Linked DNA regions of Homo sapiens. The protein of the gene in region 1 interacts with the protein of each later gene in a pairwise test. Each region holds a gene or a part of one and is shown in the gene's direction. Other genes may lie near its edges. The genes, in order: PTP4A1, CNNM1, ZNF212 and GNL1.

The links.
Region 2: the proteins of PTP4A1 (region 1) and CNNM1 interact in binary tests that used the Homo sapiens proteins (3 or more experiments, as listed by UniProt).
Region 3: the proteins of PTP4A1 (region 1) and ZNF212 interact in a two-hybrid assay, tested with the Homo sapiens proteins (one study listed by BioGRID and IntAct).
Region 4: the proteins of PTP4A1 (region 1) and GNL1 interact in a two-hybrid assay, tested with the Homo sapiens proteins (one study listed by BioGRID and IntAct).

The regions. Positions count from the first base shown.
Region 1 is NC_000006.12:63,575,455-63,582,479, forward strand, and holds part of PTP4A1 (protein tyrosine phosphatase type IVA 1), read left to right. Parts: intron 1-981; coding exon of another isoform or gene 982-1,077; 5' UTR 1,078-1,426; coding exon 1,427-1,531; exon of another isoform or gene 1,532-2,982; coding exon 2,983-3,075; exon of another isoform or gene 3,076-3,443; coding exon 3,444-3,574; exon of another isoform or gene 3,575-3,802; coding exon 3,803-3,877; exon of another isoform or gene 3,878-4,559; coding exon of another isoform or gene 4,560-4,602; coding exon 4,603-4,720; coding exon of another isoform or gene 4,721-4,757; 3' UTR 4,758-7,025. Other genes in the region: uncharacterized LOC128125822, read left to right, coding at 982-1,077. UniProt on the Homo sapiens protein: Protein tyrosine phosphatase which stimulates progression from G1 into S phase during mitosis. May play a role in the development and maintenance of differentiating epithelial tissues.
Region 2 is NC_000010.11:99,332,340-99,339,364, forward strand, and holds part of CNNM1 (metal transporter CNNM1), read left to right. Parts: intron 1-7,025. UniProt on the Homo sapiens protein: Probable metal transporter.
Region 3 is NC_000007.14:149,242,626-149,249,650, forward strand, and holds part of ZNF212 (zinc finger protein 212), read left to right. Parts: intron 1-7,025.
Region 4 is NC_000006.12:30,553,487-30,561,366, reverse strand, and holds the start of GNL1 (guanine nucleotide-binding protein-like 1), read left to right. Parts: upstream 1-4,877; 5' UTR 4,878-5,163; coding exon 5,164-5,236; intron 5,237-5,646; coding exon 5,647-5,812; intron 5,813-6,175; coding exon 6,176-6,312; intron 6,313-6,451; coding exon 6,452-6,603; intron 6,604-6,720; coding exon 6,721-6,792; intron 6,793-7,809; coding exon 7,810-7,880. Other genes in the region: PRR3 (proline-rich protein 3), read right to left, coding at 3,155-3,217, 3,917-4,022. UniProt on the Homo sapiens protein: Possible regulatory or functional link with the histocompatibility cluster.

The DNA.
Region 1 (7,025 bases):
TTGATATTGGCATAAAAATGGTTTAGTTCTTAAGGGGGAACTTAGAGAAAATATAAATACATTCATATTTGTTTATATTTATTGGTTACAGTAGTTACCTTGCTTTTGAGACCTGCCACTTCCACCTTCAACATCCCTTTGTCCGCCTTCTCTGAGTTGGATTTCAGTTTTGAGTTGTATATGTGAAATTTTGGTTTTAAAATACAAAAGAACATTATTAAAATTATGAATATTTTCTTTACAGTTATAAATGAGAGTTGTTTCCTTTTTAGATTCATAAGCATACATTCTTATGATATTTCACATAACAAGTTGATTTTCAGAGACTCATTTTCCTCGTCTTCAGTTTAATGGGAATGATAACAGATTGTTAAGGATAAAGTGAGATTCTAAATATAGGACTTAAATCAGTCTAAGAAAAGGATATAAAAGCATAAAGTTGGAAAAGAACTTAGATGTTTCAGTTTATGAGTTAAGTAAATTATGCAAGACTAATAACTTCAGAGTTATCTGGAGTTTGTATTAATGTGTAAAAATGTTTTTGTTAGTTGGAAAAATCAACATAAAGTGTATGTAATTACAATGTAAAGAAAACAACTATCGAAAGGGATAATTATTAGAATCATATAATTATATATTATATATAGATAGTATATATACAGAGAATATAACTAGATAGAATATATATGAATATATATATGAATTTCACAAAAATGTAACAATGGGTTTGGTTTTTTTTTCTGAGGAATCTTGGTAATAGATCATGGATTTCAGTTTAATCTATCTGACTGCTTGTTTTATGCTGATTGATTTAATCTGTACTCACCCCTTGAGTTTTGCAATTCAAGTAAAAGTCGATGAAGCGGCTCAGGCCCTGCTTTAGAAAAATAGTTGTGTACTTAAATAGTGTAAAACCCTAATGTATTTCTTTTGAATTGGAAAATAACTTATTCTCTCTTTCTGTCTTTTTCTTTTAAACAGCAATTCTGTGGTGTTCTTGGTCACACATTTATGGAGTTTCTGAAGGGCAGTGGAGATTACTGCCAGGCACAGCACGACCTCTATGCAGACAAGTGAACTGTAGAAACTGATTACTGCTCCACCAAGAAGCCCCCATAAGAGTGGTTATCCTGGACACAGAAGTGTTGAATTGAAATCCACAGAGCATTTTACAAGAGTTCTGACCTGGATGGGGTAAACCTCAGTGCACTTCTTTTCTGTTGGCCTCAGTATTACTGGATTGAAGAATTGCTGCTTCTTGTTAGGAGGTTCATTTCACTTATCATTACTTACAACTTCATACTCAAAGCACTGAGAATTTCAAGTGGAGTATATTGAAGTAGACTTCAGTTTCTTTGCATCATTTCTGTATTCAATTTTTTTAATTATTTCATAACCCTATTGAGTGTTTTTTAACTAAATTAACATGGCTCGAATGAACCGCCCAGCTCCTGTGGAAGTCACATACAAGAACATGAGATTTCTTATTACACACAATCCAACCAATGCGACCTTAAACAAATTTATAGAGGTAAGATTTGATATGTTTTAGTAGCTTAAATTGATTGCAATATAATAGTGGGACTTATAGCTAACAAAATAAAAACTACTTTGGAAAAAATGAGATGATATACCTACAATTCCAGTTCCCAGAAATAAATGTCAATGTCTTCTATAGGTTAGAGGTATATTTGTACATTTTGAGAAGGGCATGTGCTTGAGTTAATAGTTATTGTACCTGAGTTTGCTTGAATTGGTATGTGGACAGTAAAACAGTATAGCTCTTACTTATCTTGTAAGAAATTTACATGGGAAAGGTTGCCATTTATGGATTTTTTATATATCTGCTTAACCTAATGACTAATGCCATAAACCAGTTGGTTTTTCTTGAACCCCATCTGATGCTTAGAATCCAATTTTCAACTACAAATTCTGTTCCTTCCTAATGGTAGCTATGTAGCCAAAACTCTACCTGCCTCTTTTTACTAGGAGAAAGGAATTGAATGCTGAATAATATATCGGGATGTGCACATGTTTTATTTTATAAATACCTACAGTTGTTAAGAAATAGCAAATAGGCCTCTCAGAACATAATGGAAATACTTTTTTTTCCTTTTTTTGAGATGGAGTCTCGTTCTGTCACCCAGGCTGGAGTGCAGTGGCATGATCTCAGCCCACTGCAACCTCTGCCTCCCGGGTTCAAGCAATTCTCCTGCCTCAGCCTCCCAAGTAGCTGAGACTACAGGCGTACGCCACCTTGCCCAGCTAATTTTTGTATTTTTAGATGTAGTTTCACCATATTGGCCAGGCTGGTCTCGAACTCCTGACCTCAGGTGAGCCACCACGCCTGGCTGGGAAATACTTTAATGGTACTTTAATTTTTATTACTATATATTATATATACACTAATATATACTATATAGTGTATATAATAGTATATTATATTAGTAATATGTAATTAGTAATAATGCATTTTGAAGCCTGTAGTTTTAAATGGTATGTGGGCTTTTTTACTGTAGTTAAGACTTCATTCAATGTAAATCAGTAAAGTTTAAGGAGTGAGTATAATTGAGTGAAGTCAGATTACCCGATTAGTTATAAATAATGCCTTTAGTTACATTTACCTTTGTCTGCATTGCTGCTAGCCCCTTTTGGTTAATGTTTCATCCCAATCCGGTATTACCATGACTGTAAACAACTTCAGTGTATGAAGGGGGCACACAATTTAAACAAAAGAAGGAAAACTTTTCCAGTTTATTAAAAATATGTATGGTATTTAATATTCACTTTTCTTTTTATATTCTAGCATTGTCACTTAAAACAAAATTTGCTTTTGTGTTAAACATAAATGGATTCTAGCATTCTTTAAATGATCTTCTGTTAACCAGCATACTTACTGATCAGAGATGATCAGAATATAAAATGTTGAGTTATAGTGATGTGGTTAAACATTAAGATTTTTTTAATGTACGTTTTATCCAGGAACTTAAGAAGTATGGAGTTACCACAATAGTAAGAGTATGTGAAGCAACTTATGACACTACTCTTGTGGAGAAAGAAGGTATCCATGTTCTTGTAAGTATTTAACAGTTCTTATGGGTTTATGGTGCTGTGCTACAAAAGTTTATTCAAATAGTAAATTCAAATAAATATCTATTTAAGTCATAAATAGACCTCAAAAAGCTAAAAACAAATATTATATTATTGTGCAGAATCTTAATTTCTAAATAAAGGTGAAAAGCTAAGCAAGGATTTGAAGTTGTGAAACATTTTTGTAAAGATTGAGCATTTAGTCACATTTGGTAGACAACAGGGTTTAATAAGATTTGATTAAACATTAAAATGAGAATGCTTTTGAAAACATTTCCATGTTAGAAATTTAGAATTATTACTACAGTGTTTATATTAATGATCTAAAATGTTTAAATATTCTTCTGACTTAGGATTGGCCTTTTGATGATGGTGCACCACCATCCAACCAGATTGTTGATGACTGGTTAAGTCTTGTGAAAATTAAGTTTCGTGAAGAACCTGGTTGTTGTATTGCTGTTCATTGCGTTGCAGGCCTTGGGAGGTAAATGAATTTATCAATTTGATTCTAGGTAAAAATCTATTGATAATGAAAATACAGAAACTTGAAAAATTCTTATAATTTTTTAATATAAAGTCAACATTTGTCATAGGTATTACTTAAATAGGAAGGGTGGTAGATAATACTTCTGAGTTGGGGAATGTTTGGAGAAATAAATTTACAAAGATCTGATTTTGAAAAAACTATTTATCAAAATTCTTACCTCACCAGAGCTCCAGTACTTGTTGCCCTAGCATTAATTGAAGGTGGAATGAAATACGAAGATGCAGTACAATTCATAAGACAGTAAGTAATGGATTCTCTTTTCATTTGTACTCTCTTTCATTTCCTTGTTGAGTGTCAGTGAGTTTAATAGTCTAATAGCCCATTTAATCATTATGATTATTTTTTGAGATAGTATTAAAACCAGGAAATCAAGATCTTACATTCTTTTTTGCATTTCATGCAGTTGCTCATATTACTAAGATTCTAATCCAACAAGAGTTTTTGAATTATTGTTTTGCTTTAAATACTTGATTGAATATGTTGGTTATTTTGTATTTTTATTGAGGTATAATTAAGATACATTTAAAGATACAATAAAATGCACAGGTCTCCAAAGGAGACCAGTTGACAATAACAGCCAAATTAACCATCCAATACAACACATAGAATATTTTGAGTGCTGTAGAACATGCCTTTGTGGCTTTTGTAGTCATCTTCCCTGCTACCAGAGGCAACTTCTGACTTCACTATAAATTAGTTTTGTCTTTTCGTGGACTTACGTGTAAATGGATTTGTGAGTCGACTGTTGTAACCAATACTCAAACGAAGATATAAAGAAAATTAACTTTTTATGATTTTTTCCATTTACACTGATGTGCCTGTTCATATTCCTTTCTGCATCAGGTCACAGCCTAATTAATCAAAAGATAAATTGCCACAAGAGAGGTGATGGTTGTCTATAAGACACTAAATATTACTGTAGGGGGCTTTTGCCTTGTTTCATTTTTTTTTTTTTTTCCTCCCAGAAAGCGGCGTGGAGCTTTTAACAGCAAGCAACTTCTGTATTTGGAGAAGTATCGTCCTAAAATGCGGCTGCGTTTCAAAGATTCCAACGGTCATAGAAACAACTGTTGCATTCAATAAAATTGGGGTGCCTAATGCTACTGGAAGTGGAACTTGAGATAGGGCCTAATTTGTTATACATATTAGCCAACATGTTGGCTTAGTAAGTCTAATGAAGCTTCCATAGGAGTATTGAAAGGCAGTTTTACCAGGCCTCAAGCTAGACAGATTTGGCAACCTCTGTATTTGGGTTACAGTCAACCTATTTGGATACTTGGCAAAAGATTCTTGCTGTCAGCATATAAAATGTGCTTGTCATTTGTATCAATTGACCTTTCCCCAAATCATGCAGTATTGAGTTATGACTTGTTAAATCTATTCCCATGCCAGAATCTTATCAATACATAAGAAATTTAGGAAGATTAGGTGCCAAAATACCCAGCACAATACTTGTATATTTTTAGTACCATACAGAAGTAAAATCCCAGGAACTATGAACACTAGACCTTATGTGGTTTATTCCTTCAATCATTTCAAACATTGAAAGTAGGGCCTACATGGTTATTTGCCTGCTCACTTTATGTTTACATCTCCCACATTCATACCAATATACGTCAGGTTTGCTTAACCATTGATTTTTTTTTTTTTTTACCAAGTCTTACAGTGATTATTTTACGTGTTTCCATGTATCTCACTTTGTGCTGTATTAAAAAAACCTCCATTTTGAAAATCTACGTTGTACAGAAGCACATGTCTTTAATGTCTTCAGACAAAAAAGCCTTACATTAATTTAATGTTTGCACTCTGAGGTGCAACTTAACAGGGAGGGCCTGAGAAAAGAATGGGAGGGGGCTATTAATTATTTTTAGCAAAATGTTGCCTTTGTCTTGTGCAAACATGTAGAATATGCTCTTTAATTTAGTAAAATATTTTTTTAAAAGGTAGAGATGCTTTGTTATTGTAATCATAAACTTCCTGAAATTCTTGTAATTTTTTTCCCATACTTATCAGAAGTGTGTTTACCAACTTATTTTTGTTTGAAAGTGTGATTTTTTTTTTCCTTCCCAACCTCTCTTGCAAAAAAAGAAATGGGTTTCTGCTAATGAATTGAGCAGACATCTAATATTTTATATGCCTTTTGAGCTGTGTAACTTAATATTTGGATACTTGACAATTTGTTTTATTATGTAATTGATAAAATGGTGATGTGTATTAATGTTAGTTCAACCATATATTTATACTGTCTGGGGATGTGTGGTTATAGTTCTGTGGGAGAAATAATTTTGTCAGTGTTCACCAGCTTGTAAAAACTTAGTGCGAGAGCTGAAACATCTAAATAAATAATGACATGCATTTATCATCATTGAGATTGGTTTGCTTAAAATTAACTTATTTTGTAGAAGACAAAATGAATTGCACTTCACTTAATGTGTGTCCTCATCTTTTTACAAATAAATGAAGGATTATAAATGATGTCAGCATTTTAGTAAACTTTTAGACAAAATTTGTTAGGGTCATTCATGAAAACTTTAATACTAAAAGCACTTTCCATTATATACTTTTTAAAGGTCTAGATAATTTTGAACCAATTTATTATTGTGTACTGAGGAGAAATAATGTATAGTAGAGGACAGCCTTGGTTTGTAAAGCTCAGTTCCACTAGTTCATGGTTTTGTGCAACTTCTGAGCCTCAGTTTTCTCCTTTGCAAATTAATAATTACATACCTTTATAGATTTTGAAATTAATTTAAATATTAGTATTTGGTACATGAAGGCTTAATGTTAAGTTTCCTTTAATGATCCACAATAATCCCTTTGATCACGTTAATCTAAATCTAGATGTCTTTGTCTAATTTTTTTTGAATAGCAGTTATAAATGTAAAGGACTCAAAGTTTAAGTAAAAAGTGATACTCCACCTTGTGTTTCAAAGAATTTAGTTCCACCTCTTCATACCAGTTTAACACTTAATATATTTCATTGGATTTTAGACAGGGCAAAAGGAAGAACAGGGGCCTCTGGAGGCCCTTGGTTATTTAAATCTTGGATTATTTGTGATAGTAATCACAAATTTTTGGCTAATTTTTAACCTGAGGTTTTGTTTTTTTTTTAAAGGAAATGCAGCCTAGTCTTGAGAACATAATTTTATATAATCAATTACTAAATGTTAAACTATTACCACACAGCCCATAAAACAGCATTTGCGTTTATTGAGAGAGAGGATGTGCCATCATGATTAATGAAAACTATCTTTTGAGTTTGAAAAGAAATTAATTTGCAGTGTTTGGATTGTATATATGGTGCTAAAAATAAATTAATTTACTTTATAAACCTTATCTGTACATTATACGATGTGATGAAATTTGCTTTTTATCCAAATATTTTGTA
Region 2 (7,025 bases), on another chromosome or scaffold:
TCAGATTCAGCCTTCAGATATAGCTTCCTAATGGCTAGCAGTACTCTCATTTAACTGCATTTTGTATAAATTTTTTGTCAAAAATTTAATGTCATGATAATTTGAGCCCGAGGCTGCAGTGAGCTATGACTGTGCCACTGAACTCTAGCCTGGGTAACAGAGCAAGACCCTGTCTCAAAAAAGAAAGAAAGAGAGAGAGAGGAAGGGAAGGAGGGAGGGAGGGAGGGAAGGGAAAATTCAATCTCACTACTTTAACATCATAAATAATCTTTAGAACTTTGAATACAAACAAATCTGGGGTCTTTTTCCTGCCACAATTTTTGAAATCATATTAAATATTAAAATGTAGCCTGGAAGGGGGGAAAAAGGTCTAAAAGCTACTTTCAGTCTCAGATTTGAGAGAACAGCCCTAGACTTTGTGTTGGTATGATGAGAAGGGAGAGAAATGTATATATGGCAGCTATTTTAGTCCATTTTCGGTTGCTGTCTCACCCTGTTCAGTCCATCTCGCCTTAATCCTTGCATTCATAGTTCCCACTGCAACTTGAGGTTCATCTATCCACTCTTAGAATTATGCTTACATTTTGTATATCTTACAGAAGTAGGGTCTTAGATCTGGGCATTGGGTGGCATAAACCACAGAAATTTATTTCCTCAAAGATCTGGGGGCTAGCAGTCCAAGATCAAGGTGTCTGGCAGGTTTGGTTCCTTCTGAGGCGTCTCTCCTTGGCTTGCAGTCACCACCTTCTAACTGTGTCCTGACATGGTATTTCCTCTGTATGCATGCATCCCTGGTGTCTCCTTGTGTGTCCAAATTTTCTCTTCTAACAAGGACACCAGTCAGATTGGATTAGAGCCCACCCTAATGGCCTCATTTTAACTCAGTCACCTCTTAAAACTGATAGTTAAGATACAGAGCAGTTAAGATAGTGTCTCATTGTCATGTGCTGGCAGAAGATGTTTTAAATGAAACTCCTGTGAACTCATTCATTCATTTGTTTAGGTTTGTTTGTTTGTTTGTTTGAGACAGAGTTTCACTCTGTCGCCCAGGCTGGAATGCAGTGGCGCCATCTTGGCTCACTACAAACTCTGTCTCCTGGGTTCAAGTGATTCTTCTGCCTCAGCCTCCCAAGTAGCTGTGATTACAGGAGTGCACCAACACGCCTGGCTAATTTTTGTATTTTTAGTAGAGACAGGGTTTCACCATGTTGGCCAAGCTGGTCTCGAACTCCCGACCTCAGGTGATCCACCTGCCTTGGCCTCCCAAAGTGCTGAGATTACAGGCATGAGCCACTGCACTTGGCCTCATTTAGTATTTTTTAAACATCTATACAGTTTTAGGCAACAAGGGAGACAGGAAGACTGTCCTCAGGAGGTTAGCAATATACAGGGCATAATGAGCAGTCTTTCGAAGCAGGAATTGTCATATCAACTCTTATATCCCCAGCACCTTACACACTGCCTTGTAAATAGTAAGCTGTTCCAAAAAGTTGATATTGATCTGAAATGAATCCCTGTGCAGAATTTCTAAACCTGGTCGAAAAAAGCTCCTTTAGTGTTCTATTAATAGCTACTTTGTATTTAGGTAGAGCACTAAAGAGAAGCAAGCCATTACAGAGAATACTATACCAAGGAAGATATTTCCACTTCCTTTCATAGCCTTGCTACTTCCTCAAAGTAAGGTCCGTGAAACAGCAGCATGAGTCTCACCTGGGAACTTATTAGAAATGCAGAATTTTATGCCTCACCCTAAATCCACTGAATGAAAATCTGCATTTTAGCAAGCTGCCAGGTGGCTCCTATGTAACATTAAAGTTTGAGAAGCATTGCCTTCAGAGACCCCTTATTAACAGTGTTTGGTAGATCTACTTAAGATAGAATATAAGACATAATGAACAAGGTGGATGTTCTCAGGCTGCAAGCCATATAACATAGTGGTCATTTTCTTTAGGAGTTATACATTTGCACCATAGGTTAGGAGGTGAAAGCTGGGTTGAACTGCTTTCCTTTACCTTTAAAAATAACGTTTTTGGCTGGGCGCAGTGGCTCACGCCTGTAATCCCAGCATTTTGGGAGGGCGAGGTGGGTGGATCACCTGAGGTCAGGAGTTCGTGACCAGCTTGGCCAACATGGTGAAACCCCATCTCTACTAAAAATACAAAAATTAGCCAGGTGTGGTGGCACACACCTGTAATCCCAGCTAATTGGGAGGCTGAGACAGGAGAATTGCTGAGACAGGAGGCGGAGGTTGCAGTGAGCTGAGATCGCACCACTGTACTCCAGCCTGGGTGACAGAGAAAGACTCTGTCTCAAAATAAATAAATAAATAAGAAAAAAATAATTTTTAAAGCTGGTCTTTAATAGCTCTTCCATTTTCCTTACTTCCTTGCTTCTCAAGTAACGTAACCACCAACAAATCCCTTCGAAGGTAGAAGAGGAAAATGACGATATTAATAGGAGCCACAGTTACCATTAATTGAGCACCAACAGTTCTTCCAGGCACCATGCCAGGCCCTTTACATACTCAGAACAACCCTCCTGGGTAGATGTCATTAACTACATTTTACAGATGAAGAAACTAAAGCTCGGATCAATAACATGACTTGTACAACTTTCCATAACTAATAACTGACTGAACTGTGATGTGAACTACATCTGTAGGACCCGAAAGCCTGTTCTTTCCCTGCTACACCTGTCTTATTCCTTCCTCCATCCTGGAATTCCTGCCACCCACAGGGTTCAAAGGTAGCCTTTTCACCTCTGATTGCTGCCCATGGCTGATTCACCTCCAGTTTCTGCAGGTTAGTAATGTAGCTTTATAATTACAGTAATTGCTAACATGCATATTGCACTTGATAAAACATTTCTATATACCTTCTCTTGTCCAATCTTAAACAACTCTGCAGTTACAGGTGATGATATGGGATTTTATCTTTTTACTTCTTATGAGTTGCAAGTCTTTAGAAGTGGGGAAGAGGAAAATGGTCTTTCACACTAGAGTGTGAGGTTTACAAAAGGGAACAATATTTCTCACCACTGGACTGTAAGTTCCTTGAGGACAGAGAATGAATCTTACTTATTTTGTATTCTCAGGACAAGTATAGTGACCGCCATGGCTAGGGGATGTATAACCATTTATTGAATAAATGGTTTTAAATACCTAACTTCTATATTTCTATGTTTGAGTGAGGTGAACCCTAAGTACGGAATAATTAATGTTGTTCCTTGATCCCAGCAAATCTCTCCTCTTCCTCTTCATGGGCCTCTGTCCCCAGTAAGTGGCACCACTTGTCCCTTTAGTCTCCCAGACTAGAAAGCTTTCCTTTGCATTCACCTCATCCTATTAATCATTGTCGTCTGCACAGGCTGTCATTAGAAAATAGCATAGACTGGTGACCTAAACAACAGAAATTTATTTTCTCGCAATTCAAGGCTTTGACATCCAAGATCAAGGTTTTGGCCAACTCAGTTTCTGGTGAGGACGTTCTTCCTGGCTTGCATGTGGGTGCCTTCTCTCCATGGCCTTTCCTCAGTGCCTGTCCACAGACAGCAAGAGGCTCTGGTCCTCTCTTCTTAGAAAGACATCAATCCTGTTGGATTAGGGCCCACCCTTATGCCATCATTTAATCTTAACTACTATACTTCCTTAGAGGCCTCTCTGGGTGTCGTTAGGGCTTCAACATATGAATTTTGTGGGAAGACAAACATTCAGTCCATAACAATCACCAAAGCTGGCCAAATAATTGGATGCCAATATTGCATCCAACTGCAGTCATGTCATTTTGGTCAATGATGGACTGCATGTATGATGGTGATCCCATAAGATTACATTGGAGCTGGAAAATTCCTGTCACCTAGTGATGTCCTAGCAGTCATAACACCTAACATCGTCCTAAGGCAACACATTACCTTTACTATGTTTAGATACGCAAATACTTACCATTGTGTTACAATTACCTACAGTATTTGGCACAGTAACATGCTCTACAGGTTTGTAGCCTAGGAGCAATAGATTATAACATATAGCCTATGTGTGTAGTACACTATATCCTCTAGGTTTTGTGTGACTACATTCTATGATGTTCACACAATCATGAAATTGCCTAGCAATGAATTTCTCAGAGAGTGTCTCCATAGTTAAGCAGTGCATGACGATTTCTTAAATCTGTACATAATTTAATCCACTATTTGTTCCACTTAGGTTATTCACTGATTTTATTCAACAAATAGTTGTGTTGGCACAGTGGAGAACATCATCAACATAGTCCTTGTCTCTATAGAGCTTCACTCTAATACAGGAAACAGAAATTAAACGAACAGGATAGTGATTAAGAACATAAGATTTGGCCAGGCGTGGTAGCTCACTCCTGTAATCCGAGCACTTTGGGAGGCCGAGACAGGTGGATCATTTGAGGTCAGGAGTTAGAGACCAGCCTGGCCAACACAGTGAAACCCCGTCTCTACTAAAAATACAAAAATTAGCCGGGCAGTAATGGTGCACACCTGTAATTCCAGTTACTCAGGAGGCTGAGGCAGGGAGGTTGCAGTAAGCCAAGATCATGCCACTGAACTCCAGTGGCAACAGAATGAGACCCTGTCTCAAAAAAAGAACATAAGACTTACTAGAATGCCTGGGTTGATACTGGCCCTGGGCAAATTACTTAACTGTTTATGTCTGTTTCATTAGCTGTAAAATGAAAATAATACTAATATTTACTCATAAGATTGTGTGAAATATTAAGACTATCGCATTATGCTTACTTACTACCTGTCATGTAAGTACTAAGTAGATGTTAGCTATGATTATTAAATATAAACACAAGTCTATTACTCATTTATGCAAATGCCTCCTAAGAAGTTACACTTTTTCACATTTTTGTCTCCCTCAAATTCGTTCTCTCTAGTGCCACTAAAATAATCTCCAGTAATGTCACTGCTTAAAACCCTTCAGCAGCTCCCCGCTGCCTACGGGAGAGAGGCTAAGCTGGTAAGGCAGCCAGCAATGCACTCATGACCTGCTTCTTGCCCTCCCCTCCAGCCTCATCGCTCACCACTCCCTGCCACAGCTTTACCCTCCAGCAATGCTGAACTCTGTGGTGCACTGTGCTATTCTTGCCTTTGTCCCTTTATTCACATTGCACTTCTGTCAGGAATATGCTTTGCCTGACTAATTCATTGCCAGCTCTTTGACACTCAGCTCAGGGGCCTCCTCCTCTGGGAGACTTCTCCTGTAAACCCCAAAATACAAAAATAGATTTTTTGGCCAGCTTCATTGTTTTATGTGCATATCTCAATCATTGAACTAACAAGCTGTACTACCAGTGTTTGTTTATAAGTGCCTCCCACCCATATAATGAGCATCTCCAGGGCAAAACTGTCTTATCTGTCTTTGTAGCTCCAGCAGCTAACGATGCATATGACACATAGTAAATTTTCAATGAATGTTTGTTTAAGGACTGAATGGATGACTTAAGGAGTTAAACTTTAATATAATGGAAGAGATCTGCAGAGCACTAGAAAATGAATTAAATCATTTTGGACTATGCAGCAGAACAAATCAAACTTATAAGTTTGTTAGTGTTAGAAGAAAAGTGTTGCATCTATTGTTTCTCAGCTTCTTTAGGTACATCTATTAATATTTATTACAACAATTTCTTTTCACATGTAAAGCACTGTGCTAAGAGTTAGGGGTATGAGATAAAATCTCTGTTCCCAAAGAGCCTAAAGCATAGTGGATGAATAGCACTTCCCTTTGCAAAGCTAGAAGGCAAGCTGGACACTCACCTTTCCCATGACTTCCAGTGACCTTGAATTTACAAGTCATGTCTCAGTATATAAGTACAGGATATGGGTAAGACAGACCTTGGTACATAAAGCATTAAAATGAAAGTGCTATACTAGAAATGCAAAAATGCAATGGGAACATGGAGGATACAATAACTATGACTAGGTGGCATTTTTTTTTTTTTTTTTTGAGATGGAGTCTCACTTTGTCGCCCAGGCTGGAGTGCAGTGGTGTGATCTCGCCTCCCAGGTTCAAGCGATTCTCCTGCCTCAGCCTCCCAAGTAGCTGGGACTACAGGCATGTGCCACCATGCCCGGCTAAATTTTTGTATTTTAGTAGAGACGAGGTTTCACCGTGTTGCCCGGGGTGGTCTCGAACTCCTGAGCTCAGGCAATCCGCCAACCTCGGCCTCCCAAAGTGCTAGGATTACAGGTGTGAGCCATTGCACCCAGTCATATTTTGCTTTTATAAATTTTTTACTGAAGTTTATGTTTCTATAATTTATACAGAAAAAAATTTAAATATAGAATAGTAGAAAAAAGAAGTATGAAAATCATATGAGGATAATCATCCCACTATCCTGAAATAGTAACTCAATATTTTGTCATATTAAAAATATATTGCACATAATAACAATCTTAATGAAATTCTTAAAAAGAAAACAAAAGGAAAAGCCCATTGTCCTGCCATCAAGCACAAATCAAATGTCCCATTCTAATCTTAAGAGTGATTTTCTTATAGGGTGGTATTTTTGCTATAGTTTCCTCAGGGTTGAGTGCTATAATTTGGGAAGACTAATTTTAAAAATGGAGCCGTAGAGATTTATCATACTTCTTAAATTTACTACTCTATTATTGGATTGCTTTTAGGAGACACTGAGTTCTGTATAGACAACAGGGGAAAGGAATAAAGCTTTGTTCTGAAGTCAAAGCTTCTGAGTAATACAGCACTGACTGACATTTAACTCAATTAAACAATTCAGCTTTGCTGGGCTAGTAACACCATCTTTGCAAACAAAAAAGCACAACCCACGTATGCTAGGCTGCTCCACCTGTACACTAGCATGGCTGTAACACAGCCTACTGCACAATCCATACTCAGTCTTTGCTTATTCATTGATTCATTCAGTAAACATTTTTTGAATTCCTGCTTTGGGCCAGGCATTACACTAGACTCTGGGAATACAGTGGTGAGCTAGGCAGACATTATGGAGCTAAAAATATCCTCTTCCATCTTTGGT
Region 3 (7,025 bases), on another chromosome or scaffold:
TTTTCCCAAATAGAAAGTCTGAAAATATGAGAAGATGTGATGATGCATGGAAATGGTTAAATCTAAACAAATAGTGACTTAATAAAACGTAACAATTTCTTGTTGTGTTAAAAACAATTAAAATACATGATGGCATTGATGTAAATATGAGGAAGAGATGATCAGAACTAAAGTGTTTAAAGGGCTTTGTTAAAGGGCCTTCTATGTATGTTTCCCATAATTTCTAGGATACTTGCTAAACAACTCGAAATTGGTCGTATAACTTACAGATCAGAAAGGGGGATAATGGAATAAGAAAAAATTAATGTAAAAGAAGACAAGAAAGTAGAGAAGAAAGATGGGATAAATAGCACAAAAAAGGTAAAAATAAATCAAAGCTAATGAACAATTACAATAAATGTAAATGAATGAAATGTTCAAGTTAAAAGGCATAGATTGTCAGGATGGGGGAAAAATCCAACTAGATGGTTTAAAAGAGTTACAACCGGCTGGGCGTGGTGGCTCACGCCTGTAATCCCAGCACTTTGGGAGGCAAAGTTGGGTGGATCATGAGGTCAGGAAATTGAGACCATCCTGGCTAACACAGTGAAATTCCGTCTCTACTAGAAATACAAAAAATTAGCCAGATGTGATGGTGGGTGCCTGTAGTCCCAGCTTCTTGGGAGGCTGAGGCAGGAGACTGGCGTGAACCCAGGAGGCGGAGGTTGCTGAGGCAGGAAAATCACTTGAACCTGGGAGGCAAAGGTTGCAGTGAGCCAAGATTGCGCCACTGCACTCCAGCCTGGGTGACAGAGTGAGACTCCGTCTCAAAAAAAAAAAAAAAAAAAAAAAAAAGAGAGAGAGAGAGAGATACAACTAAAAGATAAGGATATAGAAACAGTTGAATATAAAAGGTCATGAAAAAATATGCCAAGCAAATACTAATGAAAATAAAGTTGACAAATATATTTAGTATCTTTAGAGATAGAAGGCTCCTACTACTTTTGTAATGGTAAAAGACTCAATTTACCAGCTAGATACAAAATTTCTAAACCTGTATGCACCTAATTACATAGCCTAAAAATATATAAAACAAAACTGACAGAATTGCGAGAAAGATTCACTGTTATAATAGGAGATTTTAATACAACCTTAGTATTTTATCAAATAGAAAAGACTTATAAGGGTGTAGTGCATCCAGTAGAACTTCCCAAGATGATAGAAATGTTCTGCTCTGCACTGTTTAATACAGTGGCCACTAGGCACATGTGGCTTTTGAGCACTTGAAATGTTAGCTAGTATGATTGAGGAACTGAGTTTTAAATTTTATTTATTTATTTTGAGACAGACTCTCACTCTGTCACCCAGGCTGGAGTAGAGTGGTGCAATCTTGGCTCACTGCAACCTTGCAACCTCTGCCTCCCAGTTTCAAGTGATTCTTCTGCCTCAGCCTCCTGAGTATCTGGGATTACAGTCATGTGCCACCACACCCGGCTAATTTTGTATTTTTAGTAGAGACAGGGTTTCATCATGTTGGTCAGGCTGGTCTTGAACTCCTGACCTCAAGTGATCCGGCTGTCTTGGCCTCCCAAAGGGTTGGGGTTACAGGCACGAGCCACTGTGCCCGGCTAATTTTATTTAACCAGCCACATGTGACTAGTGGATATTATATTGGAAGCACAGGTACAGAAATGATTATTTTTATTTTTATTTTTATTTTTTTTCTGAGACAGAGTCTCTCTCTGTTGCCCAGACTGGAGTGCAGTGGTGCGATCTCGGCTCACTGCAAGCTCCGCCTCCCGGGTTCATGCCATTCTCCTGCCTCAGCCTCCCCAGTGGCTGGGACTGCAGGAGCCCGTCACCACGCCCGGCTAATTCTTTTGTATTTTTAGTAGAGATGGGGTTTCACCATGTTAGCCAGGATGGTCGCGATCTCCTGACCTCATGATCCGCCCACCTTGGCCTCCCAAAGGGCTGGAATTATGGGCGTGAGCCACTGCACCTGGCCAGAAATGATTTTTTTAATCCATATATCTATCAGTATATAATATCAAAGTGTAGAGACAAAATGAAAACAAAAGAGAGGAGGCAAAAATAAAAACCTATTGGGAATGAAAATGTGTGCATTCCCATGTCTATTGGTTGATGCTGGTGTGTAGACTGAGATTGTAGGTAAGGCCGTTGAACAGAACACTTCATGCACCCTCTTCATGTGGCTTGGGATTTCTCAAGGGATTCTAGCACCTGGCTGCCTGTGATTTGCCCCACTTGACAGAGAGTGGAGCAGAGACGAACCATCCATGTGCCACCCTCCTTTAACTGCAGATTCACATGCAAAGTAGATGATGATGTCTTAAGCCACTAAATTTGGGGATTATTTGTCATACAGGAGTTGATGGTTGGAATAGATACCTAGGGAAAATGTTAAAACATTGAAAGATATTAAAAATGGAGTCTCAAAAGGCTGGGCATGGTGGCTCATGCCTATAATCCTAGCACTTTGGGAGGCTGAGGCAGGTGGATCATTTGAGGTCAGGAGTTTGAGACCCGCCTGGGCAACATGGTGAAACCCTGTCCCTACTAAAAATACAGAAAAATTAACCAGGAGTGGTGGCACACACCTGTAATCCCAGCTACTTGGGAGGCTGAGGCAGGAGAATCACTTGAACCTGAGACAGAGGTTGCAGTAAGCTGAGATCATGCCACTGCACTCCAGCCTGCAGCCTGGGCGACAGAGCGAGAGACTCCATCTCAGAAAAAAAAAAAAAAAAAGGATTTGCATACTATGTTTATGAATTGAAATTCATCCTAAATGTGTCACTTTTCTGTTGGGTGGGGTGACTCATGCCTGTAATACCAGGACGTATAATCGTGCCACTGCCCTCCAGCCTGGGTGACAGAGTGAGACCGTGTCTTTATTTATTTGAGACAGAATCTCTCTCTGTCACTGGAGGGAAGTGGTGTGATCATGGCTTCCTGCAGCCTCAATCCCCTGGGCTCAAGTGATCTTCCCACCTCAGCTTCCTGAGTGGCTGGAACTATAGGCACCTGTCATCATGCCTGGCTAATTTTATTGTCTTTTTGTAGAGATGGGATTTCACCATCTTGCCCTGGCTGTTCTTGAACTCCTGGGCTCAAGCTGTCCTCCCGCCTCAAGCCTCCCGAAGTGCTGGGATTACAGACTCGAGCCACTGTGCCCAGCCATAGATTCCCCAAGTGGGATTGCTAGGTAAAAGGGTTTTTAATGACTTGAAATTTTTCTTCCCCTAAGAGTGTGTAGTATTTTTCATTCCTTCCAGGAGTGTTATGAGAGTCAGTTTACCACATTATAGTCAGCTCTGAATGTTATTCTTTGTGTCTGTTTCATGTTTGTCAGTCTGATGGGTGAACGTGCTTTCACTTAGTTATATTTGGATTCCTGATTGTAAGGTGGTTGTGTTTTCATTTGTTTATTGACTGCCTGCATTTCCGCTTCCATGAATGATTTACAATCTGCAGTTTTATTTTGGGGTTCTTGACCTTTTTCCACTTCATATTCTGTTTACAAATATTCTCTCCTTGTTTTTAGACTTTGTTTATGTTATCTTTTATTACAGCTAGCATTTTCTCCTACTTTGACATTCTAAGACGTGTTTATTGAGATACCATTTACATACAGTAAAATTTACTCTTTAGGCAGATAGTTCAACAAATTTTGACAAATGTGTAGCCAGCATATTACCAAGATAGAGAATATTTCCATCATCCAAGAAAGTTCCCTCATATCCCTTTATAATCAGTCTTTTTTTTTTTTTTTGAGACGGAGTCTTATTCTGTTGCCCAGGCTGGAGTGCAGTGACGTGATCTCAGCTCACTGCAGGCTCCGCCTGCTGGGTTCACACCATTCTCTCGCCTCAACCTCCCAAGTAGCTGGGACTACAGGCACCTGCCACCACACCTGGCTAATTTTGTTTTTGTATTTTTAGTAGAGATGGGGTTTCACCATGTTAGCCAGGATGGTCTTGATCTCCTGACCTCATGATCAATCCGCCCTCCTCGGCCTCCCAAAGTGCTGGGGTTATAGGTGTGAGCCACTGTGCCTGGCCTATAATCAATATTTTTCTCCTATCCCTAGCCCTTGGCAACCACTGATCTGATTTCTGTCCCTATAGTTTGCTTTTTTCCAAACATGTAAATGAAACACAAATGTAGCCTTTTGTGTCTGAATTCTTTTTTTTTTTTTTTTTTTTTGGAGTTTTGCTCTTGTTGCCCAGGCTGGAGTACAATGGTGTGATCTCGGTTCACCGCAACCTCCGCCTCTCAGGTTTAAGTGATTCTCCTGCCTCAGCCTCCCGAGTAGCTGGTATTACAGGCATGCGCCACCATGCCCGGCTCATTTTGTATTTTTAGTAGAGATGGGGTTTCTCCATGTTGGTCAGGCTGGTCTCGAACTCCCAACCTCAGGTGATCCGCCCGCCTCGGCCTCCCAAAGTGCTGGGATTTTAGGTGTGAGCCACCATGCCCGGCCCTTCTTTTTTTTTTTTTTAAGTGGTCTTACTTTGTCACTCAGGCTGGAGTGCAGTAGTGTGATCATGGTTCACTGCAACCTTGAACTCCAGGGCTCAAGTGATCCTCCCATCCTCAGCCTCCCAAGTAGCTGGGACTATAGGCACATGCCACCACGTCTGGCTCATTTTAAAAAAATTGTGGAGGTGGGGGTCTTGCTTTGTTGCCCAGGCTGATCTTGAACTCCTGGGCTCAAGTGATCCATCTTAGCCTCCCAAAGTGTTGGGATTATAGGTATGAGCCACCGTGCCTGACCTTTGTCTGATTCCCGTCACTTAGCATGTTGTTAAACATGTCAGTGATTTTGGTTCCTTTTTATTACATAGTAGTAGACTTAGTAGTCGAAGTAGTAGTCTACTACTAAGTAGCAGGCTTAGTAGTCTTCTAAGCTATATAGGAAAAATACACTAAATATATAATACGGTATATAATGAAGTGTCTTATATAGTGTGTCTGTTTCCTAGGGCTGGTGTAACAAACTGGGAAGCTTAAATAACAGAAATTCTGTCTCACAGTTCTGGAGGTTAGGAGTCTGAAATCAAGATGTTTGCAGGGTTGGTTCCTTATGAGTTTTGTGTTTCTCTCCTAGCTTCTGGTGGTCCCATGTGTTTTCTTGGTTTGTGGCAGCATAAGTCCAGTCTCTGCCTTAATCTTGACATGGCCCATTATGTATTGGTGTAACAGAATACATGAGGCTGGGTAATTCATGAAGAAAAGAGGTTTAGTTGGCTCACAATTCTGGTGGCTGGAAAGTTCAAGATTGGGCAGCTGTGTCTAGTGAGGGCTTCAAGCTGCTTAAACTCATGGCAGAAAATGGAAGGGCAGCAGGTGTGTGTAGAGATCACATGGTGACAGAGGAGGCAAGAGAGAGACCAAAGAAGTCAGACTGTTTCACAACCCACTGTAGTGGGAACTAATCCATTCCTGCCAATGACAGCTCACCCCTGTGGGAGCGCATTAATTTATTTATGAGGGATATGCCCTCATGACCCAAACACCTCCCACGAGACTTCACCTCCCGACACTGCCACATTGGAAATACAATTTCAACATGGGTTTTGGTGAGGACAAACCATAGTAGACATCTTCTCCCTGTGTGTGTGTGTGTCTGCGTCTAAAGGTCCTCTGTTTTAAGGACATCAGTCATTGGATTAAGGCCCATCCTAATGACCTCATTTTAACCTGATTACCCTTGGAAGTACCTTATTTCCAAGTAAGATCACATCCTGAGGTACTGAGGATTAGGGTTTTACTGTATTATTTTGAGGAGACACAATTCAACCCATAACACTGGATGGATCACAATTTTTTCATCCATTGACTGGTTCGTGAACATTTGAATTGTTCCCATCATGCTAGATAATTCAAAACAGAAGACAAGAAGAAACTAGCTTAATCATTCTTTTCAACCTCTTACTATGTGGAAGAGGAGGGGGCTTATTCCTTTGCACAGATTCTCACCTACATTCCTGTCTAGAAAAAGTGCTACTGAGCACAGAATGCTGGGCCACAGAAAGAGGAGACTCACAGACTTAAAGTAGAAGCAAAACAAACATGATGGCATGCATATATCCAGTTTAATATTTTGTTTTGTTTCGCTTGTATTTGTCTTTTACATTGAACTTTTCTTTTAATCTCTTGCAGGAGGATGTATTTAAGCTTTTGTCTCATGTGTTCCATGATGAATTAACTGACTTGAGTAACTAGAGTAGGTCATGGCCAAACTTAAATGTTCAGTTCTGCACCAGTCAGTTTCCTTTTGTCCCATGTTCTCTGGACCACAACCCTTGGCCCCAGCAGTTCTTTCCGAGATATTTCCTCTAGTGTCTCGGTCTTGGTGGCCTCACTGTGGTTAGAGAAGCAGCCTTGAATAAAGTGTGTGCTTTATTCAAATAAAGTGAAGTTTGCAGAGGGGGTTAGGACTGAAGTGAACGTGCAGGGAGACAGTAGGGGGACAGCTTGGGGAAGACTTCCCCAGTGTTGGTTTCAGTAATTTTAGCTTCTATGACAGTGATTTTCCTACTGTCAGAGACAGCTCATTAAAGTGAAAATTATAAGGAAAATGTCAGTAGACTTAGTCACATCATTTCAGTAAATATTTTTTAAGGATTTATTCACCATCCCAGCTGCTAGAGTGCAAAGATGAATGAATTAGGTCTTGTAGGTCCTGCTAAGGAATTTTGTCTTTATTGTGGGGAGCCATTGAAAGTTTTCAAACGGGTGACATGATCAACTATGAAGTCTGGCAGGGATGTGGAAGCAAGATAAGATGTAAGTGACATCTTTTATCATATAGTCCAAAACATTAAATAAAAATAGGTTTAAAAATGAACACTGATACAGGAGTCTCAGAGAATATGCTAAGCATAAAGCATAGGTAACAGAACATACACGCTATAATTTCACTTTTGTTGAAAAAAAATAAACTAAAAGATGAAAAAAAACTTTAGAAATACACCAAAATTCAAACAGCTTCTTTCTTTCTTTTTCTTTTTTGAGAC
Region 4 (7,880 bases), about 33 Mb from region 1:
CTACTGATGATGGACATGTGGGTGGTATCCAGTTTGGGGCTATAACGAGAAATGCCACTATAAACATTTTTATACATGTTGTTACACATACGTATGCATTTCTGTTGAATATATACGTAGTAGAGGTATTACTGGCTTATAAAGTATATGTTATGCTCAAGTTTCATACATAATGCCAAACTTTTTTTTCACAGTGGTTATACCAATTTGCACTCTCACCAGCAGTTGTCCTATAGCCTTGACAACACTTGGAATTGTTAGGTTTTTAAATTTTGCCATGGTGAGTGTGAAAAGTGGTGGTTATTTTTTTGTTTGGTTATTATTATTTATTTAATGAGAGATTGGGTCTTGCCACACTGCCCAGGCTGGTCTTGAACTCTTGGGCTCAAGTGATCCTCCCACCTTGGTCTCCTAAAGTGCTGGGATTACAGGCATGAATCATCATGCCTTGTTTTGTTCGGTTTTTATTGTGGTAAAAAACACATAAAAATTACCATCTTAACTATTTTTAAGTGTACAGTTCAGTAGTGTTACATATATTCATATTGATGTGAAACAGATCTCCAAGTTTTTGTTTGTTTTTTGAGATGGAGTCTCGCTCTGTCGCCCAGGCTGGAGTGCAGTGGCGCGATCTTGGCTCACTGCAACCTCTGCCTCCTGGGTTCAAGTGATTCTCCTGCCTCAGCCTCCCAAGTAGCTGGGATTACAGGCGCCCACCACCACGCCTGGCTAATTTTTGTATTTTTAGTAGAGATGGAGTTTTACCATATTGGCCAGGCTGGTCTTGAATTCCTGATCTCATGATCCGCCCGACTTGGCCTCCCAAAGTGCTGGGATTACAGGCACGAGCCACCATGCCCGACCTCCAAAAGTTTTTTATCTTGCAAAACTGAAACTCTGTACCCATTAAACAAAACTCCCCTTCCTCCAGCTTCCTTCCCCCAGCCTCTGGTAACCATCATTCTACTGTTTCTTTGAAGTTGACTTTATTTTTATTTTTTGTTTTGACAATCTTGCTCTGTCATCCAGGCTGGAGTGCAGTGGCGTGATCTCGACTCACTGCAACCTCTGCCTCCCAGGTTCAAGCAATTCTCATGCCTCAGCTACCCGAGTAGCTGGGATTACAGGTGTGCACCACCATGCCCAGCTAATTTTTCTATTTTTAGTAGAGACAGGGTTTTGCCATATTGGCCAGGCTGTTCTCGAACTCCTGACCTCAAGTGATCTGCCTGCCTTGGCCTCCCAAAGTGCTGGGATTACAGGCGTGAAGCACCATGCCCAGCCCCTGAATTTGACTTTAGACACCTCAGATAAGTGGAATAATACACTATGTCTTTACTTAACATAAAGTCCTCAAAGTTCATCCATGTTGTAGTATGTGACAGCACTTTCTTCCTTCATAAGGCTGAATAATATTCCATTGTATGTACACGCCACATTTATCCTTCCATCAGTGGACATGTGGGTTGCTTCCACCTCTTTGTTATTGTGAATACTGCTGCTATGAACATGAGTCTGCAAATATCTCAAGACCCTGCTTTCCATTTTTTTTTTTTTGATATATACCTGGAAGCAGGAGTTCTGGGGTAATTCTATTTTTAATTTTTTTGTCATCTGGTAGTTCTATTTTTAATTAAGAGGAACCTCTTCATATTGTTTTCTATAGTAGTTTCACCATTTTATAATCCCAGCAGCAGTACACAAGAGTTCTAATTTCAAAGTGGTATATTTTTATCTTGCATTTACTTGACAATTAATGATATTGAGTACTTGTTCATTTAGACCTTTAGTTCATTTAGATCTCCATTTTAATAAGGTGTCCTGTGTTTTTGTCAATTTTTCAAATGGCTTGTCTGGAAGAGTTCTTTATATATTATAGATACAGGATCTTTATTTGTTATATTTATTGCAAATATCTTCTATTGTATGGCTTCCTGTTAATTTCTTAATGGTATTATTTGGCAAGTTTGTATTTTGTTTTTTCTTTTTTTTGAGACAGTCTCACTCTGTCCCCCAGGCTGGAGTGCAGTGGTGCAATCTCAGCTCACTGCAACCTCCGCCTTCCAGGTTCAAGCGATTCTCCTGTCTCAGCCTCCTCAGTAGCTGGGATTACAGGCACACACCACCATGCCCGGCTAATTTTTGTATTTTTAGTAGAGACAGGGGTTTCACCATGTTGGTCAGGCTGGTCTTGAACTGCTGACCTCGTGATTCGCCCGCCTCGGCCTCCCAAAGTGCTGGGATTACAGGCGTGAGCCACTGTACCCAGCCGCAAATTTATATTTTCTAACGGAGTTCAATTTATCAATCTTTCCTTTATGGTTAGTGTGTATACGTGCATTTCTTGTCTGTTTAAGAACTCTTAGCTACTCTTAGAAAATACATTTACTTTCTAGAATAATTATTCTCTTACCTTTTATACTTAGATCTACAGTCCATTTGAAATAGATCTTTGTATATGATTATGAGTGCAAGGTGAAATTCCATTTTTTTCACATGAATATCCAATTGATCCAATATCATTTATTGAAAAGACCAACTTTTCAGTTCCATCTTCATCATAAATGAAGTGTCCACACATGTATGGGCCTGTTATTGGACTCTTCGGGACATAAGTCCTATTGACTTATGTCTATCATTGTTTCCAAACTGCATCGTTGTAACTATTGTAGCTTTATAGTAAGTCTTTTTTTCTTCTTGTATTTAGAGACAGGATCTCACTATGTTGCCCAGAGTGGCCTCAAAAACTCCTGGGCTCAAAGGATCCTCGCACCTCAGCCTCCTGAGTAACTGGGACTACAGGCGTGTGCCACCATGCCCAGCTTACAAATCTTGATATTCATAGTAAGCCCTCCCACTTCAAGATTGTCTTGATAGTCGCCTTGATATTTTGCATTTCCCTATAATAATGTGTATTTCCACAAAAACATTATGGGTGTTCTGACTTGGAATGCATGAAATCTGTTTATCAATTTGGGAAGAAGTGACATTTTTACAACATTGAGTTTTTAAATCAGCAAATATACAACTTCTCTCCATTCATTTAGGGATGGAATCCCTGATCTTTTATTTTTAAGTCCTTCCTGGGTTTTATCCCCTCCCTTGCTGTCTTCTCTACGACCTAATACAAGGATCAGGGCCCCTTCCTCCTCACCTGACTTAGGGTCGCCAGGTTTTCCATTGGCCATGGGGGGAGGGCCCAGAAGGCTGGGTGGTCCTAAGAGCAGACATGAAAATATGGTCATCAGAATGGATTAAAGGACTGATGATTCTGTTCTTAGGTGTTTTTCTTGTATTACTTATTTCTTAATTCAACCAGTAAAGTCAGGTATATTTTCAGCAGTCTTGGGAGTTCTCACCCCATCTATCTGCCCTTTTTTCTGCAAAGCTGTTTCAGGGTTTGCAAAAAGTAGATATTCAATCAAAGGGGATAATGCAGGAAAAGATACTGACAACTTTTTTTCTTCACCGTACCGTCGCTATCCAAAACAACCTAAGTGTCTCCAGACATGAACCAATCCCTCACCTTAACTGCTGGCCAGAGGACTAGTTTAGAGAAAGCTGCACCTGTACCTTTTCAGTCAAAGTCTGGATACAAACTGTCATCCCAGTCATCGCAATCTGCAACATCTCTACTACCCCTTTCCCCTACTGTTCTGCGGCTGCGCAAAAGAGCTCTTTATTCTCTCCACCCCCGCCTTCTCCAGAAAGGTCTGGGGCCGTATTGAGGTTGATGGTTCCAGTAAGAGAACTCCTGGTTCAAGGCTCCATTTGGGAGAGCCCCACTTCCATCCCTCCCCAGCGCGTGCGCCCTTCCTCCTTCCGTTACAGCCCCCTCCTTCGCACCTTATTAGCCCCTAGCCCCTTGCCCGGACGGGCTTGACAGGCATGTGCACATCCCTCCCAGACCCCTCACCGATGGGACTCCCATCCTCCTCATCTCCAGTCTCTTCCCGCTCGGGCAGCGGGGGCTGCTGCTGTGTCGGTGGCTGGTGATGATTCTGCTTCTTTCGTTTCGGCATCGTGTCTGCGGCAATGGCTGCAGCGGGATTTGGAGGGTAGTGAGGAAGGGGCACGCGGGGATTCTGTTTCCGCTTCCGGGGGGTCGGTGGGCAGCAATGCTGAGGCTCCCGCCATTCCACTTCCGGAAGGTTGCGGAGAACATCTGCGGCGGCCGCATTCCGGAGCCAACTGCCTCCCTCCGTCTCTGCCAGGCATGGCGGCAACCTCACACCTTCCCTTTGCTGCGTTTCTATAAATGCTTTGAAAAAATTACTCTTTTCTTCCCTCGCTGGAAAACACCACAACCAGCTCCTCAGAGTGTGTCACAGAGTCAACAGGCTCTCGGGCCAGAGGGCCTGAGAAGAGGACTGTCGCACCGTAAGATCGCCACATCCGGTCCTCGGTTACTATGGTAACAGCTGCAGGCACAACTTCGTGCCCTTTGACCTCCCCCCAAAAGTCCTTGTCCCGCTTGGGTTTCCCTTCTCGCCCGCTTTTGCACTTATGATCTGTAAACCTGCTCCTTATCATCGTTCCCACAAGGAATTTGGGTCCCAACAGGTCGGCACCCAGGACTCTCAGACCGCCGCCCTCCCCTAAAGACCTCTGACCGTGCCCCCGGTGTAGTCCAGCAACCTGGACGCAGTCTCGGCTTTCCACTAAGGTCAAGCCCGGGGCTTTGTAGTATAGCCTCAGCGTGTCCACGCCCCCTCTCCCCTAGGTAGTAGGCCCCGCCCTCCGCTCCGCCGCCCCCTCCAGGTGAGTGGTAGGTTCTCCCGGGAGCGCAAGGTAGTGATGACACGCGCCCCCCCTCCTCCGAACGCGAGTTGGTAGCGTCCGTGACGGAGTTAGCCTGGTCCTCCCACGCGCGCCTCCTTCCTCGCCGCCGGGGCGCCCTCTCGGTGCCACTGGCTCTCACGTGCCAGTAGCCCACCCCGCATCATCCTCTCGCCTCGCTCCTGGAGGGAAGTGACTATATCTCCCCCGTCCGCCTTCCATCGCCGCCGCGGCGGTAATTCTGTCGGGCCCGCCCGCTGACGTCACCTGCTAGCCCCGCCTCCTCTAGGGTCCCGGGCCCCTGCGGCGGGGGCTGCCCCGGGGGGCAGTCAGTTGAGGCGGCGGGAGCTCGGCGGAGGGCGGGCCAGGTGACTGGTCCGGGCCATGCCGAGGAAGAAGCCATTCAGCGTGAAGCAGAAGAAGAAGCAGTTGCAGGACAAACGGGAGCGGAAGAGAGGTCAGTGCGGGAGCGGGAGGAGGGGGCGGGGCTCGGGCTTCCGCACATCTGGAAGGAGGGGTGTGCCCGCTGCACCTCTGGGGATCGTGGGAGGGGGTCGTGGGACCGCGTCAACCCTCGCGGCCTATCGCGGAGGGGATCCCCCACCCCCCCTACATCTGGAAGGGGTGGGGAAGGATGGAGAGTTGGGGGAGGGGAATCCCTCCAGCTAGCACGGGGCGCCGTCCCCACTGCTCCCTGAAGGAGTGACTCCCCCCACGCACATCCGGGAGGGTCCCAAATAGGGTGTCTGGGAGGACTGAACATCGGAAGAAGTTGAGTGGGATGAAAGGGAGTCAGGCCGATGGGGGAGAGGGTCTTATGGCCCCTGAGAGCTGGCCAGCACTGGCGTCACCGGCCCCTCCCCGCAGGGCTTCAAGATGGGCTGCGCTCCAGTTCCAACAGCCGCAGCGGGAGCCGGGAGCGGCGAGAGGAACAGACCGACACCTCGGACGGGGAGTCTGTGACCCATCATATCCGCAGGCTTAACCAGCAGCCTTCTCAGGGGCTGGGTCCACGAGGCTACGACCCAAATCGGTGAGGGTGGGAGGGGGCGCTGGTCCCGGCTTTCCCGCCTACCCGGAAGTCAGAGCTTTGGGGGAAAGCGGGCTGCTACTGGTGAAGACGGTGGGCCTGGGATGCCACAGTTCTCCGCTAGCCACTCGGCTCCCCACAGCGGGCCACAGTCTTCCTTTCCAGAGGGGCTGGAGAGAGTTGGGCTTTTAGAAGGAGAAGGCTGAGTATTGCCTGAAAGAAGGACTTGGGGGAAGTCTGACTTGAGAGAGGAGACTTGAACGACTCTGGAGAGAATGGTTTGCGAAGTTGATTGTACAAGAGGGGAGAAAATAGGAGTTTGTGGCCACAGGATTGCTCTGGATGTCTCGGTCCCTGTTCCCTTAGATACCGACTGCATTTTGAGAGAGACAGCAGGGAGGAGGTAGAGAGGAGAAAGAGAGCAGCCCGGGAGCAAGTTCTACAGCCGGTCAGTGCTGAGTTGTTGGAGCTGGACATCCGGGAGGTGTATCAGCCTGGCTCAGGTGAGTGAGAGCAAGACAGGCATTGGGCTGGGGAAGGAGTTTGGAAAGGTAAAAGCCGACTGTGAGGAAGGAGGGGTCTGGGATGTACTCTTGAATCCTGAAGATTTCCTCACACTTGGACTTTTTCCTGAATTCCCAGTTCTGGACTTTCCTCGACGTCCTCCTTGGAGCTATGAGATGTCCAAGGAGCAACTAATGAGCCAAGAGGAACGGAGCTTCCAAGACTATCTTGGGAAGATTCATGGGGCTTACTCCTCTGAGAAACTCAGCTACTTTGAGCACAATCTGGAGGTGACAGTGTACTCTAGGGACAGGAGTGGGGCATAGTGACCTATGGTCAAATTGGTTTGGGATCAGGCTGGAGAGGGACTCTGTTTTCAGTTTCTCTTCCTGATCCTGTCTTTTTAGACATGGAGGCAGCTGTGGCGGGTGTTAGAGATGTCTGACATCGTCCTGCTTATCACTGATATCCGACATCCAGTGAGTACTAGGGATAAGGGTGGGCAAGGAGGAGGGAGAAAGGTTTTTCAGGGGCAAAGGTCAGAGGCAAGAGTTGGGAGACAGAGAGGTATCTATCTTCCTGTCTTTCTAATCTCTACCTAGTGCTGATGTCCGCAGTTAGGAACTCAGTTTTTTATTCTCTTATAGCCTGTCATTCCTCCCTTGGCCAGCTCACTCTTCTCTTCAAAACAGCCATGTCCTGTCCTTTAGCTCATCACAGACCAATAGAAAATCCAAGTGTTGGAGCTCCAGGGATTCTATGAATGCAGCTGGGGACTTCCTCCTGCCCAGCCCAAAGATGCCCTTTCTTCCTTATCTCATTTCTCTAGCACTGCCACATCAGTTGCTACAGAACCCACCTGGAATGCTAGAGTAGTAGTTAAGGCTGTAGACTGCTGCTGGACTGCCCTGTGTGAATCCTAGCTCTGCAACTTCACTCTTGTCCTCCAGTGGGAGAAAGGGAGGTCTGTGAGGACCATTTAGGTTGGAGGTCCTTAATAATATGTACACACACATACTCACACGTACATCATGTGCACATCAATATACACAGGCATGTTTGCACACATGTTCACAGTCACATTAACACACAAACATGCACACATGTGCACGTACTTGCATGCATGCATATATGCACGTGTACACACTTACATAGTTGTGCACACACAAAAAAGCAGACTAATTTCTACCCTAACCCCCATCCCTGTTTCCGATCCCAGCCTTTACCTCAGTGTGCTAAGTGATGCTGTTTCCTTGTCTTGTTTTGGGTTCATTTCCATCTCTAATCATGACCTATAGGAAGCCCTCTGAGACTCAGAAGTATTACTAACCCCTGTTTTGTCTTTGTTTTTCAGTTTGTCTGGTTTATAGTTTTTAGCCCAGAGTCTGCTACCACCAGGGCCTTGTCTCTGAGCTACACCTGCTGAGTGGGGAGCTGGAGGCAGAGAACTCTGGGTTGACTTTCACTGCTCCATCCTCTTATCAACTCTGTCCTAGGTTGTGAATTTCCCGCCAGCACTTTATGAGTATGTGACTGGAGAACTTGGACTGGCCCTGGTGCTGGTTTT